Homo sapiens: one gene and its partner. The protein of the gene in region 1 interacts with the protein of each later gene in a biochemical or structural test. Each region holds a gene or a part of one and is shown in the gene's direction. Other genes may lie near its edges.

Region 1 (7,755 bases):
TGCCTCTAGGTCCCATCCTGGGGCCTGAAGCGCTTGTTCTCTGCGCTGGGAAAAGGGGAACGATGGAGCGATCCAGCACCCAAACTTACCCTGTCCAGGTGGCCCACGAAGCTACCCAAGACATCTCTGCACAGCCCTAGCCTTTTTGGCTTCACCCACTCCGTTCGGGAGTTGGGGACCCGGCCTCTACATTCCTTAGGGGAACTCCAGCTCCAGGTCCTATTTGGAGGCGGCTCCTAGTTTCCTAGTTTTCTGGGGGCACCAGGTGAAAGGGTGATGAGATATCCATACAGCCTTTCTCATGCCTCGGTTTCCCCCGTGCAGTCTCCCTGAATAAGTCACTTGGGAAAGAAAGTGTGAGAAGAGAGGAATGTTCCTGGTACAGGAGTAGATGAGTCACCCTGGGTAGGGGAAGGTCACAAAGTGGCTGGGGCCAGGGAGCTGCACTCTGCTGACCAAGCTTCCCCATTCCTTGCCCCATCTTCCTTTGCATGATTTTTCCCAACCACTCTGGTCTGTCTTCCTAGGTCTGAGAGTCACTGGAGCTACCAGAAGCATCATGGGGCCCTGGGGAGAGCCAGAGCTCCTGGTGTGGCGCCCCGAGGCGGTAGCTTCAGAGCCTCCAGTGCCTGTGGGGCTGGAGGTGAAGTTGGGGGCCCTGGTGCTGCTGCTGGTGCTCACCCTCCTCTGCAGCCTGGTGCCCATCTGTGTGCTGCGCCGGCCAGGAGCTAACCATGAAGGCTCAGGTAAGCCTCTCCTTTTCCCCACACTGCTATGAATGCTTGGCTTAGGGAGGGCTCTGGGGCTGGCGGGGAGTGACCAAAGGAGGAGGGAAAGGCAAGGGTAGCCATTGTTTGGGTTGGGGTGGTCGGCCCTGGAGGGGGTTTGTTTGCTTATTCCCCTCTGTGCTTCACCCCTACCCAGCTTCCCGCCAGAAAGCCCTGAGCCTAGTAAGCTGTTTCGCGGGGGGCGTCTTTTTGGCCACTTGTCTCCTGGACCTGCTGCCTGACTACCTGGCTGCCATAGATGAGGCCCTGGCAGCCTTGCACGTGACGGTGAGCACTGGCCTGGGCATGTGACTTGCGGGAGGGGAATCACACACCTCTGGGAGTGTTGGTTTGTGGAGATTGATTCATGTGCCACTCCATGACTGTGTGGAAGACTTTTGGCATGTGGTATGAATTGTGATTTTTGGTTATGGGGCATAATTCTTTCTATGTGTTCCCTCCCCCTTCCCCATTCCCTGTGTGACCCCTACATTCCCGTTGAGACAGTAAGACACTTTTTCTCAGGTGTGTGACTTGCTCTATGGGTTCTCAGTTCTAGCTACCAGCAAGTGCTCCAAGAATCATCTTCACTCTCTCACCACTTTCCTAAAGGGCTGGAGATAGAGGTCTCTGTAGGCCTGAGAAGGATAGGAAGCGATTCCCTGGGTCTTGGTGTTGCTAACCTTTTTAGGCTTTGGCCCAAGGAAGTGGGCTGTGAGGAATGATCAAGTCCACGGCATAGGACTTGGTTTATTATAGGAAAAACTGAGGCCGTTGGATAGTGGGGCAGGAAAGTCATCCTGGGCTCTTTCCTTTTTTCCTCTAAAACTGAGGAAGTAACACTGGATGTATCCCTTTGTGTGTCTGTGACTGAGTGACCTGTGTTTCCGTGTGACTGCGTATAAGCCTGAATGTCCTGTGATATGTGGCTCTATGTATGAGTATTTGGGGAGATGGGCAATGTGTGACCTTTTCATGTATGTCTACATCAGTGACTCTCAACTAGGAGTGTGGCTTTGCCCCTCAGGAAACATTTGGTAATGTCTGGGGATATTTTTAGTTGTCACAATGGGGAGGGGGATGGAGGGAACATTGTGCCTGCTATTGGCATCTGGTAAGTAGAGATCAGAAATGCTGTTAAACAATCTACAGTGCACAAGACAGCTCCCATGACAAAGAATTATCTGGCCCAAAATGTTTTTGTTTGTTTGTTTTTGTTTTGTTTTGTTTTTGAGAAAGAGTCTTGCTCTGTTGCCCAGGCTGGAGTGCAGTGGCACAATCTCGACTCACTGCAATCTCTGGCTCCTGGGTTCAAGTGATTCTCCTGGCTCAGACTCCTGAGTAGCTGGGATTACAGGCATCCACCACCACACCCTGCCAATTTTTGTATTTTTAGTAGAGACAGGGTTTCACCATGTTGGCCAGGCTGGTCTCAAACTCCTGACCTCAAGTGATCTTCCCACTTTGGTCTTCCAAAGTGCTGGGATTATAGGCATGAGCCACTGCCCCTGGCCCCAAAATGTTAATAGTTCCAAAGCTGAGAAACTTTGGTCTACACGTAACACTGTGAGTGACACCATAATCTGTGTGTACGTATCATTCTGTGTCAGTGTTACCAATTCACTCTATCTTTGTGTGACTGAGAGTAGCCCTGTGTCTGTGTCAGACCCTAGGTCTGTGTAACTGGGCTTTCACCAGATTTTGCATCTCACTCTTCCTTCCCTGAACATTTTGCTGCTGCTTCTGCCCACAGCTCCAGTTCCCACTGCAAGAGTTCATCCTGGCCATGGGCTTCTTCCTGGTCCTGGTGATGGAGCAGATCACACTGGCTTACAAGGAGCAGTCAGGGCCGTCACCTCTGGAGGAAACAAGGGCTCTGCTGGGAACAGTGAATGGTGGGCCGCAGCATTGGCATGATGGGCCAGGGGTCCCACAGGCGAGTGGAGCCCCAGCAACCCCCTCAGCCTTGCGTGCCTGTGTACTGGTGTTCTCCCTGGCCCTCCACTCCGTGTTCGAGGGGCTGGCGGTAGGGCTGCAGCGAGACCGGGCTCGGGCCATGGAGCTGTGCCTGGCTTTGCTGCTCCACAAGGGCATCCTGGCTGTCAGCCTGTCCCTGCGGCTGTTGCAGAGCCACCTTAGGGCACAGGTGGTGGCTGGCTGTGGGATCCTCTTCTCATGCATGACACCTCTAGGCATCGGGCTGGGTGCAGCTCTGGCAGAGTCGGCAGGACCTCTGCACCAGCTGGCCCAGTCTGTGCTAGAGGGCATGGCAGCTGGCACCTTTCTCTATATCACCTTTCTGGAAATCCTGCCCCAGGAGCTGGCCAGTTCTGAGCAAAGGATCCTCAAGGTCATTCTGCTCCTAGCAGGCTTTGCCCTGCTCACTGGCCTGCTCTTCATCCAAATCTAGGGGGCTTCAAGAGAGGGGCAGGGGAGATTGATGATCAGGTGCCCCTGTTCTCCCTTCCCTCCCCCAGTTGTGGGGAATAGGAAGGAAAGGGGAAGGGAAATACTGAGGACCAAAAAGTTCTCTGGGAGCTAAAGATAGAGCCTTTGGGGCTATCTGACTAATGAGAGGGAAGTGGGCAGACAAGAGGCTGGCCCCAGTCCCAAGGAACAAGAGATGGTCAAGTCGCTAGAGACATATCAGGGGACATTAGGATTGGGGAAGACACTTGACTGCTAGAATCAGAGGTTGGACACTATACATAAGGACAGGCTCACATGGGAGGCTGGAGGTGGGTACCCAGCTGCTGTGGAACGGGTATGGACAGGTCATAAACCTAGAGTCAGTGTCCTGTTGGTCCTAGCCCATTTCAGCACCCTGCCACTTGGAGTGGACCCCTCCTACTCTTCTTAGCGCCTACCCTCATACCTATCTCCCTCCTCCCATCTCCTAGGGGACTGGCGCCAAATGGTCTCTCCCTGCCAATTTTGGTATCTTCTCTGGCCTCTCCAGTCCTGCTTACTCCTCTATTTTTAAAGTGCCAAACAAATCCCCTTCCTCTTTCTCAAAGCACAGTAATGTGGCACTGAGCCCTACCCAGCACCTCAGTGAAGGGGGCCTGCTTGCTCTTTATTTTGGTCCCGGATCCTGGGGTGGGGCAGAAATATTTTCTGGGCTGGGGTAGGAGGAAGGTTGTTGCAGCCATCTACTGCTGCTGTACCCTAGGAATATGGGGACATGGACATGGTGTCCCATGCCCAGATGATAAACACTGAGCTGCCAAAACATTTTTTTAAATACACCCGAGGAGCCCAAGGGGGAAGGGCAATGCCTACCCCCAGCGTTATTTTTGGGGAGGGAGGGCTGTGCATAGGGACATATTCTTTAGAATCTATTTTATTAACTGACCTGTTTTGGGACCTGTTACCCAAATAAAAGATGTTTCTAGACATCTGTACAGTATCTGATTCGTTTGTTTTGGGAAAGGGGTGGGCATGTGGCCAGCCTGAGAGGGCCTGAGTCCCAGATGTTTACAGCTGTTTTAAGATTCTTGGTCTCACTGTTTTCACTCAGGACCCGATAGTCCCCTTCCCTGAAGATGACCTAATTTTTCCTCCTTTGTGTCTTGGTACTTCTTTCCCGGTCTCCACCCCTCGGCTTCCCTTCTCTTCCCTCCCCTCCCTCTTCCTTTCTTCTCTCTTCAATCCCTCTCTCCTTTCCGTTCGTAGTCTCAGGGCTAATTTAGAACTACTCTTCCCAGCTTGCACCTCTCAGGGAGTAGCCGAGAGGGTGGAGCCAAGTCCCCAGTTTCCGGAGTCAGCAGGGCTGCTGGGAAGTGGAGTCCGTTTCCTCCTAGTGCTGCGTGACTGGGGATGTGAAGGAGTCTCGTAAACAAACTACAATTCCCGGCGGCCCCCGCGCGCAACAGGTCAGGGCTAGGCTGGGGCCGGGTTCGCGGTGCTCGCTGAGGCGGCGGTGGCTACGGCTGGAGGAGCCGGGCCGAGGCCGCGGCGGAGGCCGCGGCTGGTACTGGGAGGGTGGCAGGGAGGGACGGGGAAGGAAGATGGCGACGTCGGGGGCGAACGGGCCTGGTTCGGCCACGGCCTCGGCTTCCAATCCGCGCAAATTTAGTGAGAAGATTGCGCTGCAGAAGCAGCGTCAGGCCGAGGAGACGGCGGCCTTCGAGGAGGTGATGATGGACATCGGCTCCACCCGGGTGAGGGGCCGCGCCGGGGAGCCGGAGCAGAGCTGAGCAGTTACGGAGCGGAGACCGGAGAGGCGGGGCGGGGGCGGGCGCCGCAGCGAAGGAGGCGGAACAGAGCAGGGGACGCGGGCGCCGCCGTTTGGGAGGCGCAGGTTGAGGGCCGAGGGGCAGGAAGAAGGATTTTGCCGGGGGAGACCGAAACACCGGAGAGGTTCGGGGTGTAGAGGCGACTGGGGGCCGAGTACGTGAGGTGGGAGTGGGCGGAGAGGGGAGATGAAGTCCGGCGGAGGTAGGAGGTGAGTGGTCCTTGTGCATCCCTGACGGAGTCCCCTCGAGGACGCTACTGAAGCATGCCTGGTATTGGGGTATGGCCTGGGAGGAGGGCTGCTTGTCTGTAACCTGGCTCCTCTGAGTTTGTGATCTCCTCCAAACTGGTCCCTCTGCCTTCTGCGCTTTGGTGCCCCCGGGAAAGGGCCCCTTGAGTGGTTTGAACGAGCGGTGCTGTGTATAGTGGGGCAGGAAGTCCCCTCCTGCGTCCCGTCCTTTTGCTTCCTTTTTCAAATACTTCTTGTGGTTTCCTGACGTGAATGAAGGTGAGGTCCATTGCTTGGTGTTTTGTCCTGGCCTCCTTGGAGGAGAGGTAGGGTTTTGAATCCGACAACTGGGTAACCGTCCGACCATAAGTTGTGTGGAACTCTATGGTTTGCTGAGCTTTCTAGGGAGTTGGCTGCTTTGTGGGTTAGTGTGTAGGGTGCCTTGGAGGGTCTTCTATGTGTTGAGAATATTCATTCCTAGGAGTTCTTGAAAGAACTTTCAGGCCTCTGCCAGGCTGCCTCTGAAGCCCCCCTGGCTTGGTTTCTTGCTTTCCAAGGCTGGAGGTCAGAGGGACCAAGGGGTAGGAGTCCGCCTAGGTGGTATGCAGTCTTAATTTAGGGACACATTCTTCTAAAACAACAGTAGGTAAGGATATTGCAATGATTCCTCATGGCAGAGAGCTAGAAGGAATTTAAGGATTGATGGTGGAACATTACTACAACATCTCTAGCCTTTTTCTGCTGGTCTGACTGTGGTTGCATTTATGACTGTGACTCTGGTTGTATTTTTGTGTGTATCCCCCTTGACTCTGTTACTTTTTTTTTTTTCTCGTCCTTTCCCCTTTGAGTCTCTAGGGACTATGTGCCCTAGTTTGTGGGAGTCAGAAGTTAGGTGGGGAGGCAAATCTGGGAGGGTGTCTGTGCACGCATGTGCACACTTAAATGCATGTGTGTGCATAACCCACTGTAACCATTGTGAGGATTATTATCTAACTGTAGACTGCTCCCCTTTAGGAGCTTTTTCATCATGTTGGGGACAGAGACAGGAAGATGGGAGGCTGATCTTGATAGCGTGAGGCCCTGCCCTCAGGACTGTGATTCTAGCAGAGGCATGGTGGGATCTTAGGGCTCGTATGTGCAAAGAAAGGCTGTGCGAAACTCAAAAGCTGGGGCTTCTCTTTACGGTGCCTCGATCTCTTAAAAGGCCCCTTCTACCCACCTTGCTCCTATTGGTTAATTTCTCAGCTACACAGAAAAGTCTAGTGGGCATACATGGCCAGGGGACCCAAAAGTCTAGAGCTAGGGACAAGAGATCTGGGACTCAGCCTGTTATCTGGCCAGGTGGGAGGGCTCATTTGAGACAGAGATGGCCATGGGAGGCTATACCACTGAGATACTGGGGTTGCCATATATGAGACCTCAAGTGGTCTTCAAGTGGTCCAGAGGTCAGCACAGTGCTCACTAGGCTGACCTCCTGGAACAGAATGTCAGTTCTGATGTTGGCTTCTGTACAAGAGTGTGACCCTGGAAGCTCTTAGAACTTGCCCCTCCTCAGCTGCCCTCCTCCCCATGGCCTTGCCCTGGGCCTGTTTATTTGGCTGGTCGCAGGGGCTGAGCCTTGGAAATAGATGCTCACCTCTCACAGAGACAGGATGTCTGTACACAGGCTAAACCCATGCCAGGCTGTCTTACGCCTATGCCAGACATAGCTCCCCAAAGTGAGGATGAGACCAGGAAGATGGCCCTGGCCCATGCTGGAGTGGGCTGCTGCTCTCTGTCCACCCTCCTTCTCCAGGCTTCCCTGCCAATTCAAGAGCCTTAGGATTCAGTGGAAGAATGTCCCTTGGTTTTGGTGCTGTTTTTCCAGCTAGGAGAGCTGCTATTCCTTGGATGTTCTAGTTTGGGAGGTGCAGGCTTTGTGTAGCCTTCCTGAGGCTGGGCAAGTGGCAGAGCCCAGAAGCCTGTGCTCTCCAGAGTGGGAAGGAAAGAGGCTGGCAGTAATGGCTCTGTGACATCCACCTGTGGCCTTCCTCTTAATCTCTCAATTAGTCCTGGACGCATCTGGAAAGAAAGCAGAGGTTCCTAATAGGCACTCCCCCTTGTGAGTAGCCCGGGAGCTCCTGGCAGCCCCTCAGGGACTCTGCTTAGAGTGATGCCAAATGAGACAGGCCCTCAGCAGAGTATCTGTCTCTGCCTGGCAGGATGATGTCAAGCAGTAGTGATATCATTGATGAGGGCAGTCTGCAGATGGGCTCTGGTGGGTTATTTGCACCAAATCTCGGTGGACCTTTCAAACCCCAACACTGGCCTTTTTTTTCTGGCAGATAATTTCTTTATTTTTTTTTTAACTTTTTTTTTTTTGGAGACAGGATCTCAGTCTGTCACCCAGGCGGCTAGAGTGGAGTGACATAAACATGTCTCACTGCAGCCTCTACTTCCTGGGCTGAAGTGATCCTTTTTTTTTTTTTTTTTTTTTGAGACAGAGTCTCTCTCTGTTGCCCAGGCTGCAGTGCAGTGGCACAG
Region 2 (7,583 bases), on another chromosome or scaffold:
TAATTTCCTTATTTGGGGAATTAGTAGCATGTAAATATACTACGATGTTGTCTTTTGGCATACAGAATTTCTGAATAATGCTCCTGTATCAACATTGCATGTATAAATTTAGCTTTTTTTCTTTTTTTTTTCAGAGTAGTAATGAGTTGGACCAATAAAAAGTGCAAAGCCTGGCTTTCTTCAAGTCCTCATGCTCCGAGAGTCTAAGGAGCAACATTGTAAGGCTGCAATTTTCTTTCAGGTTGCAGGTAAACTGCTCTGCAGGCAGCCTAAGTGTTCTTTGAAAATCACTGAAAATATGTGACATCTCACTGTTTGTATCACTCTCAGGTCAGACCTTAGGTCCTCAGACATTCTGTATCACTTCTAAAAGTTTCCAAGTTCCTATCACTGTCATTGAGAATAACTTGGTCTGCTCTTTTCAAATTCTGGAAACAGGACACAATGACATTACATAGGAAAATGTCTCGTTTTCCTCTTTGAATCTATCTTTTGCTTTTTCAGAAAAGGGTGAGTTGGTAATGATGGCTGATTAGGAGCTGGGTGAAGGGTCTATCTCTCTGCCTTTGTCTTGCATTACAGGGGCTCTGAGAATTCCACCCCCAAGCCACTCCTCTGAGTCTTCTTCAGGACAGGAACACAACACTTATAGGCCTGTATTTTGTTTTTTTTGTGAGAGGAGTTTTCACTGTGTTGCCCAGGCTGGAGTGCAATGGCACGATCTCGACTCACTGCAACCTTTGCCTCCTGGGTTCAAGCAATTCTTGTGCGTTAGCCTCCCAAGTAGCTGGGATTACAGGCATGCACCACCAAGTCTGGCTATTTTTTAAAGATTTTTGGTAGATACAGGGTTTTGCCATGTTGGCCAGGCTGGTCTCGAACTCCTGGCCTCAAGTGATCCACTCACCTCATCCTCCCAAAGTGCTGGGATTACAGGTGTGAGCCACTTGTGCCTGGCCAGGCCTATATTCTTTTTTATTCTTTTTTTTTTTGAGATGGAGTCTTGCTCTGTTGCCAGGCTGGAGTGCAGTGGCACGATCTCGGCTCACTGCAACCTCTGCCTCCTGGGTTCAAGCGATTCTCCTGCCTCAGCCTCCCGAGTAGCTGGGATTACAGGCATGTGCCACCATGCCCGGCTAATTTTTTTTGTATTTTTAGTAGAGACGGGGTTTCACCATGTTGGCCAGGATGGTCGTGATCTCTTGACCTTGTGATCCGCCCGCCTCGGCCTCTCAAGGTGCTGGGATTACAGGTGTGGCCTCAAGGGCCAGAAATACTTCTACACAATAAGCCATGATACTCTTCTTGGTGCTATTTACAAGTGAAGCCATCGCAGGCACTTCATTCAGTCTTACTGTCTTGTTGTCTTTATTCCTGCGCTTCTGCTACCTGCTCTGTCCTGCTTTCAAGACCTCTCAAAATACTCTTCTTCCCTGGGTCGAAACTGAGCCCAGTCACCCTGAACTTAATGGAGAGACCACTTTTCCTACTGGCTCCTACCTTGACAGGGATTATAATACAATGGGGAAGATCCTAGGTTCCAGAGGTAGGTTGCCTGGGTTTTAATCCCAGTTCTATCACTTTCTAGCTCTGTGATTTTGGCCAATTCCCCTAATCCCTATGTGCCTCATTTTCCTTATCTGCAAAATAGAGATATAATACAAACCATCTAATTAGGTTGTTGTGAAGATTAAGTGAGTTCCCTTAGGTACACTGTTTAGCATAACGCGTGGCAGATTGCTATTTCCTCTGAGTTTCTCTCAGAACCTAACTCAGTTCTTGGTACTCAATAAATCCTTATTAAACGTAAACATCTAAACTATTTTCCTTTTTGCCTGATGATCTCCTTTGATTACTCCCTTCTCTAATTTTCTATATTCTTTGTGCCAAAGAGGACTATTCTTCAAGGAGATCTCCAGCAAGTCTCTACCAAAGTCTCAATCAGAAACACCATCTAGTGACCTCAATCTATACAGGAAAGGAGCGTAAGTGACATAACACACAGCACACAGCATATGTTCTGGTCATTATTGAGGGACAAGAGTCATCTGCTTCTTCTCTGTGGAAATTAGAACAATGCTGCATTTTCTAGGTCCTTCCCAGAGTTGTTTTTGTTTTTGACACTCTTGAGAGAGTAGCAAAAGTTCTGATATTTGATGTTCGAATTACCTCCATTAGTGGAGGACACTCTGTGATCATACAGTCATCAGTAAGAATGGTTTCAGTGCTGCTCCTGCAGCTTCCACAGTGAAAGATTTTTTTATTTGCTTTACTAGCCAGCTAAGGTTTCTGTTGAGACACCCAGGGAGATGGTAAAACTGCAGCTGTAGCTGGGCACGGTGGCTCACGCCTGTAATCCCAGCACTTTGGGAGGCTGAGGCGGGGGGATCACGAGGTCAGGAGTTCGAGACCAGTCTGGCCAACATATCGAAACCCCGTCTCTACTAAAAATACAAAATTAGCCGGGCATGGTGGTGTGCGCCTGTAGTCTCAGCTACTCGGGAGGCTGAGGCAGGAGAATGGCTTGAACCTGGGAGGTGGAGGTTGTGGTGAGCTGAGATTGCACCACTGCACTCCAGCCTGGGTGACAGAGTGAGACTCTGTCTAAAAAAAAAAACAAAAACCCAAAAACTGCAGCTGTGAAGCCCAGCACCAAAGTTATAGTCCCTGCTAGAGGCAGCTGAGAGCCATGAAGTGATAGGAGAGGCAGGTCACACCCCATCATTTATCTGGGATGGAATGAGCTCAGCTGATGAAAGGGCTTAACCAATGCAAGAAGCCAAGGCCCACTTCATTCTTATCTTTAGTTGCTAATAAGGGAGCCAATTAGTGTTAATTGTGTTGGCAGTTTGGAACAGCTACCAGGGAATAGATCCAAGACCATTGTGGGATGACCCCTCTGTCCCATCTTAAGTCCCAGCCATTACTCATGGTTGGATAGGGAATTGGAGCACCAGGAGGTGTTCTTTGGTCAGCGAGTAAACACGAGTTATCCTTCCACACATTTACAGTGCCCTGGGTGTCAGTTTTTAATACTGTGCATGCAGTGACCTCACAATACAGTTCTACCATTGAGAGAGACATAGATATGGATGGATCAGGACTAGTCCAAAGGAATACATTTTAACATTGGAATATTCACAATCTTCCCTCCTTTCCACCCAGCCTGCCAAAGACTATTTTGTTGACAGTCTGATTTCCTACCTGCAACCCTCACCTAAAGCAGCTAAGTTAATCTATTTAATAAAGGGAAGGGGAGAGAGGAGGAGGAAGCCTGGGAGCTATGAAGGATGCAGGTAATAGGCAAGGGAAGAAAAAGAGATATGAAATTGCTGGAGTTATTAACTTGATGACCCTCAATGTCCTCGGAGAGTCACTAGGAAGGATGGAATTTTTATTATTTACTTATTTATTTTGCTTAACCGACTGTTGTTTAAACACGACGTGGTTCATTGGACAATGCGCACCACTGCTTCATCAGGGTTATACAAGCAACAGAAATAGTATGTAGGCACTCTGACAGACATCCCTGTAGAATTGTTCAGAGATGGGGGTGGTAGGAAGGAAAATGACGTACCTTCTTTGGCTGTCACCCACCCAATGACTGGAATGCCTGTTTGGACTGGCTTGTCCGCCCTTGAACACGCAAATCCTAGTTTCCCCATTCTCCTATATTCGGTGACAATTAGGTTGACTGTGCAGGGTGAGCTGGATTTTGTAAGAGGAAGGAATTTTACCGAAGAATTCCCCTGCGTTGTTACCAACTTGGTTACAGTTGCTTCAAGAGTGTAGCTATTCCTGCATTTGTGGCCTCAAGGGCTAAAGTGGGACAACGCTGGTATTTTTGGTGATGAGGAAACACTTTTTTTTTGTTAAGGGAGGTTGGGTGATCGTTGAACTGGGACAGAGGTCACAGCAGAGGTCACATTGGCGATTCGAGCGGCGGTGGGGGGTTGGCTTTGGGTCGGGCATCCTGCGCCCCCCACTCGGGAAAGGTGGCGGAGACTTCGAGGTTGGGGGCCCATCGAAGGTTCCCACCGCCAGCTCCCGGAGGGGGGCACCCGGGAGCCAGCGCCTCAGGAACCGGGGCCCACGCGGGAAGGTCGAGCCCGCCGGTGAGGTCACGGTTGCCATGGCTCCGGGCAGTGACGCGCGTCGGCACGTGACCCGCGGTTGCCATGGAGCCGGGCGCCGGTCGGCGAAAGCGCCCCGCCTCCCCGAGTGACGTCCGCGGCCCCCCCTTTCCCGCCCCCCCTTGCCCCCTCCCCCGAGCCGGCTCCCCGCGGCCCCGGAGGTTTCACTGCACAACAAGATGGCGGCGGCGGCGGCGAGCGGAGCTGGCGGGGCTGCCGGGGCCGGGACTGGGGGAGCCGGGCCCGCGGGCCGCCTGCTGCCTCCGCCCGCGCCGGGGTCCCCAGCCGCCCCCGCTGCCGTGTCCCCTGCGGCCGGCCAGCCGCGTCCCCCAGCCCCGGCCTCCCGCGGACCCATGCCCGCCCGTATCGGCTACTACGAGATCGACCGCACCATCGGCAAGGGCAACTTCGCGGTGGTCAAGCGGGCCACGCACCTCGTCACCAAGGCCAAGGTACCGGCGCAGGGGCCAGGCGGCAGTCGGAGCGTGGCGGGGCCGGGAGAGGTCCGCGCCCCCCAGCCGGGGGGTCGGGGCGGCGAGCGCGGCGCGTGGTGGGAGCGTTGGGGGCCGGGAGGCGGGAGGGAGCCAGCCGCGGCGGGGCGGGCGCGGAGCTAGGGACACCTGGGACTCGAGACGGCGGAACTCCAAGCAGGGGGCCGAGGGCACAGAGCACCGGCGCCCAGGAGCCGGGCGCGGGGAGGGGTCCTCGGGGCTGAGGGCAGGCGGGTAAAGGGGATGATTGGAAAGAAGGGGTCGGAACTCCCCGAGGGCCGGGAGACTGTAAGCCCAGAAGACTCTGGAACCAGCAGCTAGGGAATCATAAGGGAATGAGGGCAGGGGCATATGAAATGTGGACCCGGAGGATGGGGAAAAACAAGGGTGAAGTGGCAGACCCGGGCTTGTAAGGGGACCCAGGACGGCTGGGGCACGGACTGGGAATGTGCACGTCTGCAGGGCGCTGGGAGGTCCCAGGATCCTGGTGCCTTAAGACAGAGACAGGAATCCGCATTTGATCATCTAAGACTGATAGATGGTGCGAAGGGGATCCCGAGGAGACACGATTAGTGGAGGAGGCAATGAGGAAAATGGGGAAATAAGGGGGAAATTGCTTTGCTTGTCCACAGGAAGGGGCCCAGGGAATGGGGGAGTGAGGTGGGGGTGGGGGCTGTCCCAGGTTTATGATGGCACTAGGTAGTCAGGGGTTAAACAATTTGGGAGAGCTGATTGCTGGTTATTTTTAGTTGTTGGAGGGTCGGGAATTGTGGGCTTTGTAGAACCCAGGGTGGGCTTTTACTGGTTGGGGGGAAGCTTGTGATTGAAGAACCCAGACACCGGGAGATTACACTCATCGAGCCCTTAGTTCTCAAAGGGATTTGAGGCGCTATAGGAGTGAAATTGGCCAAGGTCAATTAGGAAGCTATATATGTATGCATGTAAAATTCTTTGAGGAAATATGGTAGCACTTTCATGTAGCCTTCGTTGGGAGGACTGGAATCTAAGACATCAGGAGGAATCTTTTGGTTTTGGTGGAACCCGCAAAGCCCATTTTTACTCTAAAATTTTCTTTGCTCAATATCTTACTTGAATGAATACTTTTAATGTAGTCATTCATTATGTTTAGAACTGCAGCTTGTGTTTTCCCTCAGCCTGAGGAATGAAGAACCCTTACAGCTGCTGCCGCCTCCTACCAAAGCCACATCAATTCCCCTCACCTCCTCAGCCTAGCCTCTGGTTGTCATGACCTACCTTGTTTTTGCTTTTTTGGCAGTGGCTTGTTTTCTGAAGCCAGTGACTTATCTAGGCCTTCTCTCCTGATCACTTGCAACCTGAAGTTCCTTCCCCACCATCTTTCTGCCTGAGGCTACAAGGGGCCCTTCTTACCAGGGTGTCAGGGTGGGTGGCTGTGGCGAATTGATTGGTCAGTTTCACTTCCTCTGGAGGGCCCTCTTCAGCCTTTTTGTCCGTTTTTATCACAGGGCCTCCAGTCTGCAGGTCAGAGCTGAATGAGATACCAAAGTCCAGGGCTCCCTCAGACCCTGAGGGGAAGTCAGGGGAAGTCGATTGAGCCAAGACTTTGGTGTGCTCCTCACTTGCCACCCCAGCCCCTCACCGTGTTTCCAGTCTAGTTGACTATTAGCCAAGGCAAACTTACATTTACAAACAATATGCCTTGTTCCTTGTTTTGCTATTTCTTTCCTTTTTTTCTGCCTATTTTCTGTGTAATCACTTTGTGCTCCTGTGGTTATTTTGCTCTGACCTCTGGGGGATAGTCTCCATGAACTTAATTGGTTGCCTGGTTTATGGTTTCATGATTTAAAGAATTTTGAATCTTCCAGCCCTTGGATACACCAAAATATTGATAAAATCTGTTACAGACAGGGTTGAATGTTTTCGTAAATGTAATTGCAAACAGTTGATTCTTGGCTTTAATATAAAAGAGACATTTCTATCTTCAGTAGTCAGCAAAGCCAGTGCCTAATTATGGCTGGTCTGCCCGCTTTCTAATTTTCATGTGTGTGTATATGTGCGTGCGTGTGTTTTTCATAGTTTTTCTCTGAGACCTTGGTATCCTTTAGGACTGCAGCATTTTAAACACTGGCTTGTTTACAAACGGGTGTCACTGTTTATGTTGGTTTTTATCTTTGATCATTTGTGGTATGCAGTTGTGCAATTCCTATGTATGGAAATATTCAAAGTCTTGAATGAGACTGAAATGGCTTGGACAATGAGTTGCATGTGTGAAGGAGCCACACCAGCATTCATTTGTGTTTCTGTAGCAGTGTGCAATTTCCTAGTTACAGTTACAAGTGCTATATCTTTTGCTGCTTAAATTACTCTGACTACATGAGTGAAGCTTAATTCACAAGGAGTTGTCACGTGCTCTGGGTGAACTAGGAGCATATTTTGGCCTGCTCCATGCTTCTCTGAATCCACTTTGGAAGGGGTTCTCAAATGCGGACAGCTTAGATGTGCCTAACAGCTGTCGACATACAGTACGATGGCCTATTAAGGTTATGGTTTGGTTATATAACAATGGTGAAGGTGCATAGGTACTAGAAGTTGCCGAAGCTGCTGCTTCAGTTAACTCAGGTTGATTTTTTTTCTCCCCATGCACTGCAGCCTTTATCTTACTTCTGCAGAGGGGTCATTTGGAAACAGAGAGTTATTTTTTTCCCCCATCTGTCTCCAGAATGTGTCATTTGTTGTTTTGTCTTTTAGAGGTGTGTGATTTTTTTTTCCCCTTGTAGGAAATGGTCTGGGTTTTCTTATAACCATATATAACAGTCAGACAGAGGTAATTCAGATGATACTTGTGTTGGCTGAAGGAGGTTAGGTAATAGGTATTTTCTGAACATTAGAAATAATTATGATCCCCCTCCTTTTTTTTTTTTTTTTTTTTTTTAAACACACATGACCCATTCCAAGAACTAAGAGACTAAAGTAAACCTCA

The links. The genes of interacting proteins can lie anywhere in the genome.
Region 2: of the proteins of CRTC2 (region 1) and SIK3, one has a biochemical effect on the other in vitro, tested with the Homo sapiens proteins (one study listed by IntAct).

The regions. Positions count from the first base shown.
Region 1 is NC_000001.11:153,955,520-153,963,274, reverse strand, and holds the start of CRTC2 (CREB-regulated transcription coactivator 2), read left to right. Parts: upstream 1-4,662; 5' UTR 4,663-4,777; coding exon 4,778-4,930; intron 4,931-5,044; exon of another isoform or gene 5,045-5,191; coding exon of another isoform or gene 5,192-5,214; intron 5,215-7,755. Other genes in the region: SLC39A1 (zinc transporter ZIP1), read left to right, coding at 560-746, 925-1,055, 2,521-3,177. UniProt on the Homo sapiens protein: Transcriptional coactivator for CREB1 which activates transcription through both consensus and variant cAMP response element (CRE) sites.
Region 2 is NC_000011.10:117,095,145-117,102,727, reverse strand, and holds the start of SIK3 (serine/threonine-protein kinase SIK3), read left to right. Parts: upstream 1-4,299; 5' UTR 4,300-4,312; coding exon 4,313-4,585; intron 4,586-7,583. UniProt on the Homo sapiens protein: Positive regulator of mTOR signaling that functions by triggering the degradation of DEPTOR, an mTOR inhibitor. Involved in the dynamic regulation of mTOR signaling in chondrocyte differentiation during skeletogenesis.